2 separate regions of the Homo sapiens genome follow, and region 1 is linked to region 2. Evidence: fine-mapped expression QTL. Tissue or cell type: whole blood. Region 2 holds a variant in brackets; the other region holds the start of a gene. All regions are shown on one strand. Distances are from middle to middle. Region 1 holds the start of PRSS3 (serine protease 3). Region 2 overlaps PTENP1-AS (PTENP1 antisense RNA).

What was found. PIP is the estimated chance that this variant, and not a neighbour inherited with it, causes the effect.
Region 1: it holds the start of PRSS3, and the variant in region 2 is the best candidate, but not a certain one, in a credible set for the expression of PRSS3 in whole blood (TOPMed, PIP 0.67).

The regions. Positions count from the first base shown.
Region 1 is chr9:33,794,221-33,797,143 of GRCh38, reverse strand. It overlaps PRSS3 (serine protease 3), which reads right to left and starts at 1,583. Exons shown (of 5, transcript NM_002771.4): 1 at 1,531-1,583; 2 at 342-501. The coding sequence starts at 1,570. The region is part of intron 3 of UBE2R2-AS1 (UBE2R2 antisense RNA 1); the gene reads left to right. RefSeq lists an enhancer at 534-1,034.
Region 2 is chr9:33,682,681-33,685,603 of GRCh38, reverse strand. All of the region lies in intron 3 of PTENP1-AS (PTENP1 antisense RNA), which reads right to left. It also overlaps the pseudogene TRBVAOR9-2. Among named protein-coding and RNA genes, the nearest start is that of PTENP1-AS, 6.9 kb to the right of the region's middle. The variant G/A (reference allele first, on the strand shown) is at 1,166.

The DNA of each region.
Region 1 (2,923 bases), 110 kb before region 2:
GAGAAGTTTGAGTTAATTGCCCTGGGGTAGGACACAGGCATCAGTATTTTCAAAAACTCTGTCTTAGGTCGCTTTAATGTGTAGCTAACCAGCAAAAGGTACTTGCCTGCTTTTGTCACTAGCTCTGACAACTCCAAGATTATCCCTGCCTGCTTTTATGACCACAACCCTTGCTGTTTCATGGATTGGCCTTGCTCTGGAGAGTCAGCTGCTGTCAACAAGTTTTCTTTTCCACCACCTCTCCCATCCGTCTTACCCAACCTCAGTACTTCCCTGGGCTGAAGCCAAGCTCTCCCAGGCAGCCTGGCTGGGAGCTTTGCAGTCAGGGGCCCCACACTTACGTCTTGTAGCAGTGAGCTGCTGATACCACCCACTGTTCGCTGATGAGGGAGCCACCGCAGAAGTGGGAGCCAGAATTCAGGGACACCTGGTAGGGGAGAGAATTCTCCTCACAGGTGTAGCCCCCAACAATCTTGTCATCATCGTCAAAGGGGACAGCAACTGGAGTGGAAATAGGAAGGGAGAAGGCAAGTCAGTAGCATGTTAGGGGTGGTGCTCCCAGCCTGCGGTTGCTTCCTGCCAATTAGAAATCCTTAACAAGCCCAGTGAGGCCAGGCAAGGGAGGGAGCGCTGCCACCCCTGGTGAGCATCACTGGATGTGGCTCCCAAGTCTCTGTGTCTGCAGGGCACGTAGCTAGGTACCCTGCAGGGGCTCAGATCTCTCCTGGGGACACCAGGCTGAGGATGCAAGGAATGTCCTCAAAATGCTTCCAGTGGGGTAGCAGTTGGTATGTTGTTGTCTCACCCACTGAGTGCTTCTCTCTTTTATTCATCACCTGTGTACTTGCCCTGGCTATTTGAGCCCTGGATTGTCAGGATACTTTGGCTAAGCTAGGAAAACCCCCTGTCTGGGTAGACCTGGCCATGACTAGCTTCCCCCATAGCTCAGATCTGTGCAGTGAGGGCAGAGTTGAGGGCAGCCCCAGGCTCACTTTGGCATAACAAAGGTAGACTTTGTTATTGGCCAATAGAAGAGCAATTCTTAACTTTGGCGGCATGCCTGGAAACGTTAAAAATCACCTGGGAAGCTTAAAAGCCCAGTACACAGGCTGCACCCCAGACAAATGAAGTTAGAACTTCTAGAGTTGAATCTCTGGCATGAGTAATTTTTGAACCTCCCCAGGTGCATTCGAGGTTAAGAGCAGCTATAGTGGTGCTATACTGGTGCTCTTGGAGCCAAGCCTGAAGCCTGCCACTTCATTTCATGGGCCAGCCCCACCTGGTCTCCCTTCCCAGCTTCTCCAACCACAGCTCGGATATGGATGAATGACAGTGGTGGGAGTGAAATGAGGGAAAAGGTGAAACAGGTGAGGCTTAAAGAGAGCCCAAGGAGGATGGGAAGGAGATATGTCAGATGGAGGAAATAGAATATCAGAGCGCAGTCAAAAGAGGAGAGGTGGCAAGAATGGCAGGGCATGTGTCTGCCAGGAAAGGGGGTGGGTGGGGCCTGAGGCAGGTCATGAAACTCGCCAGCAGCTCCCACAAAGGCAAGGATCAGGAATGGATTCATGGTGGTAGAGTGTGCCTGACTGGTGGTGGAAGGCCTGTCCTTATACCCTTCCAAGAATCAGGAGAGGAGGTGTCTGTGAGGTGAGGGTCACAGTTCTTCCCAGCACAAACACACCTGCAGCTTTCCCCTTGCCAGGGTCTTGCATCAGCTCGGCTACGTTTGGCCACTCTGTGGGTTTGTGATTCACAGGTGATAAGGAAACTTGCCTTCTGAGAGCAGAGAGGGAGACTGGCTATTTCCTGGAAGGATGCTGGGATGGGGAAGACAGGGGAAACCAATCCCCGGATCACACAGCTGGGCTTTCGTAGGCCGAGGAGATGAGGGTTAGAAGGAGGGAGAATGGCCTGGGTGTCTAGGAGTCCTTTTAACTATTGGGGATGTATTTAATAATGTACTTAAGGAAGGGCAAGCATTGGTAACAAGCTTGGCTTTTCAGTTTCCTGGAGCCCCCACGAGAGGAGGAAAGTCTTATCTAAGGCTCATTTTTGTGAATATGAATATGCTTCTTTGCAGTCACTGTGCACAAAGGTCAAATCCAAGACTTTGGGTATCCAGAATTCCAACACTAAGGGGTAAGGAGAAGGGAGACTTAGCATTCCATAGGATTCTGGGCTTCCAGATGGCTCTCCTTCCTACCAAGGCTTAAAAGGATGGGAAGTGTTTCAAAGAAGGAGGGGACACAGGTTAGGTAGGAGCTTACTCAGTGCATCTGGAGGATGGAAAACCAATGGCGCACTCCTCCCCTTCTTCAATGTGAAGCCACTTGTCTCTCTCATGTGCATCCTGTCATAGGTTCTTTTTATGCAGCCTCACGGTTGTCCTGGCAACCTGCACTTAGGGTGATGCAAACTGACTCACCTGCTCAGGGCTGACAGCCTGAACCAGAATGACATGCCCCTGATCAGATGTCAGAGTTTGGACCATGGTAAATCTGGGTTACCATCTGATCTGAGAATCAGCAGTAGGTAGAGATTTTAGCACATGGTAAATGGGTCACATATTGGGATCAATAAGAAGATGTGGAGGGGTGGGTCTAGAATTTTCTATTTTAGATGCAGTGAGATTATGCTGGGCTTAGTATCAAGTGAATCTTCCCAGAGAATATCCTGATTTGGGCCCTACCAAGGCTACTAAGACACAGTTGTGTAATTGACTGAGGCACAACCTGGCCAGAGTAGTGTGGAGATGGAGATGCTGTCTGTGATCAAGTCTAATGATGTAAGGAAAGGAGGAGCTTCCTTATGAGGGTGCTTTCCCTTCTCAGCAACTCTGAGCTCAGGTTGGTGATGGGCAGGAGTGAGCAGAGTTCAAGTTTAAATTCTTTGAAAAGTAAAAGAAGCAGAGATGTTCTGG
Region 2 (2,923 bases):
ACGCCTGGCTAATTTTTTGTATTTTTAGTAGAGATGGGGTTTCACTGTGTTAGCCAGGATGGTCTTGATCTCATGACCTCATGATCCGCCCCCCCTTGGCCTCCCAAAGTGTTGGGATTACAGATGGGAGCCACCACGCCTGGCCGGTCTATAGATTTTTTTTTAAGGTGCAGTTTTGTTGAGTTTTGTTATAAATATTAAGGTCATGTCATGAAAATAATTTAGAAATTTCCCCTACTTTTCTATACTTTGCAATGTTTTAGGTATTCTCAAAGTCCCTGATTTTAAAAGGTGTGGAAAAATCCCTGTAAGAAACTATATGGGACTGGCGCTTTTCTGTGAGGAAATTCTATTACAAATTTATTTATTTCTTTTGTAGTCATTGTTTTGTTTAGGCTTTTTATCCACATTAGGGTCAGTTTTGTTAAATTTATAATGTGAGCCATTTCATTTAGGCTTTTAGGTTGTTTGCAGAGAATTATACAAAATATTGTTTTTAAAAATAGACTTTATCATACTTCCCCTTGTCACTTCTGTTTTAGTATATTTGTCCTCTCTGTCTTTTGGCTGGCAAACAATGATCTCATTTGCTTATTTCTTAGTTCTATCATTACAAAATTTTCTACCTTATTAACTTCTGCTTTTATGTTGATCAATTCCATTTTTTTGCTTCTGTCCTGTTCAGGATAAAAGTCTGAAATAAGTCTTTGGGGCTAAAAATCAAGGTGTTGGCAGGTGGTGTTCCTTTTGTAGGCTTTATGGGAGAATCCATTTCTTTGCCTTTTCCAGCTTCTAGGTGCCATCTGCACTACTGGGCTCAGGGCCCTTCCTCCATCTTCAAAGTGTCTGTCATTCTGATCTCTACTTCTGTTGTCACATAGCCTTTTTCTGACTTGCATCCTCTTGCCTCACTCTTACTACACTCATCGGACATAGTACTAGATTCTGGGATACAAGGATGAGCAACAAAGTTTTCTGCTCCTATCGGGCTTATAATTCTGTATCCAATATATTGTACCAAGTCCTACATACTGGATTTACAAAGGTAAATGAACATATAGTCCAATCCCTCAAAAACCATTCTAGTCTAGGAAGAGTCAGACATGACCATAAATATCATAACATAGTGATAGAAGTTGAAGTTTCTTTAATTTGTTATAAACAC[G/A]TAAAGAAAGAAACCTCCATATCTGTCTGGGAAAAGAGAGAGGGCTTCACAGAGGTGGTGTGGTTTTGGTAAGATATTTTAGGAAAGTGTGTGACGATATTGGGCCCACTCAGCTAACCAAGGAAAACCTCCCCATTTCAAGATCCTTAACTTAATCACATCTGCAAAATCCTTTCAGCAATGTAAGCGAACATATTCATAATTTTCAAGGATTCAGATCTGATCATTTTGGGAGATTATTCTTCAGTCTACCACAATGTGAAAATCTCTAAATAATTGCAGCAATACTTTTGAGAGAGAAATGTTTAGATAGCTGAGATCATATCTTAGCTAGAGAGGCAAGAACTGATAAAACCCTGGTTTGTTCAATAAATATTTATAGAGCGCCTACTTTATTCAGAGCCTGTAATACTGTTGAAGATACAAAAATTAAACCTTGGACATGGTCTTGGCCTCATTGAGCATATTTTGTATTAATAATTTTTAAAACTATCATAATAAGTTAAGCAATGAAGTGTGTGATACTCTATGATTGTAGAAGCTCTGGATACCATGGGGTATTTACCACAGTTAAAGACTCAGGCCTAAACGGGAAGGATTAGTAGTACAGATAAATAGGGAGAGAAAGATTATTCTAAGTACTGTGAACAGCATATGTAAAGGCTCAGGAGTGAGTAAGAAAGTACATATGGAGCTAAGGGATTATGAATATTATTAGAGCATAAGTATGCAAAAAGTGGGTAAAGAGTAGGTGAATTTCACAAGACTGGATAGGTATGCAAGGGCCAAATCATGGAGGGTTTTAAGAATTTGTAGTTTGGAAGATTTTTATTTATTTATTTATTTTACAAAAAGAACTTACAGGCTAACATTTAGATATAAAGAAGACTGGTCATAACCCTAAAGTCAATGGAAAGGAAGTGTTTTCAGCTGCAGAGAATGAACTGAGTTAGAACAGAGAGTAAGACATCAGGTAGGTGGATATTTGGAAAGTGTTGAAGGAATTCAGGTGAAAGACAGTGGTTGCCTGAGCTAAGGCAGTATTGGTTGGGATAGAAAATAGTGGTTGAATTTGAGAGGTTTTAATAAACAGAAATGTTAAAGATGTGGTTATGGACCAATGTGGAAGAAGAGTGTGACAGCAGAGGGTGAAGATATTCTGGGGACTCTAGCTAAAGCAATTGAGTGAATGCTTATACCACTTAGGGATCCCAGTGAGGCAGAAGATGCATGTCACCACATACCTTAGGATGGGTTATTGTCTCAAGAAGCTAGAGAGCCAGGACTGGGACAAGGATGAGGAAAGGCATTGCAATGAATGTGTTTGGGACCTGAAGAGGGGATATCTTGTCCGAGGAGCAATAAACATGAAAGGGCAGAGTAAGGATCTTAATACATATAATTTAATCTCAGAAATAGAAAATGATGGAATTTGAACTGGCCATAGACTTAGGAACATTTTCTCGACTTCTGTACTCACTTGTACAGCACAAGGAGGTACAGGAAATATTGCCTTTTGAAGTCTGATGCAAGGTTGCTGCTCAGGTCAGACTTCACACACACAAAAAATCTTATGTTAAAGATTCTGGAAAGGTCTTTTCTCTCCTCCTGTGAAAGGTTCTTTCTCAGCATAGGGTGGCGCCTCTTGTGGTTGGACACTCCTCCCTTTGAGACTGCCATTTTGTGAGGTGAGCACATGCCTGTGCAGTGCTGTGGAGTGACGGCACAAGGACACAGGGACATCTGAAAGGGCTTTGC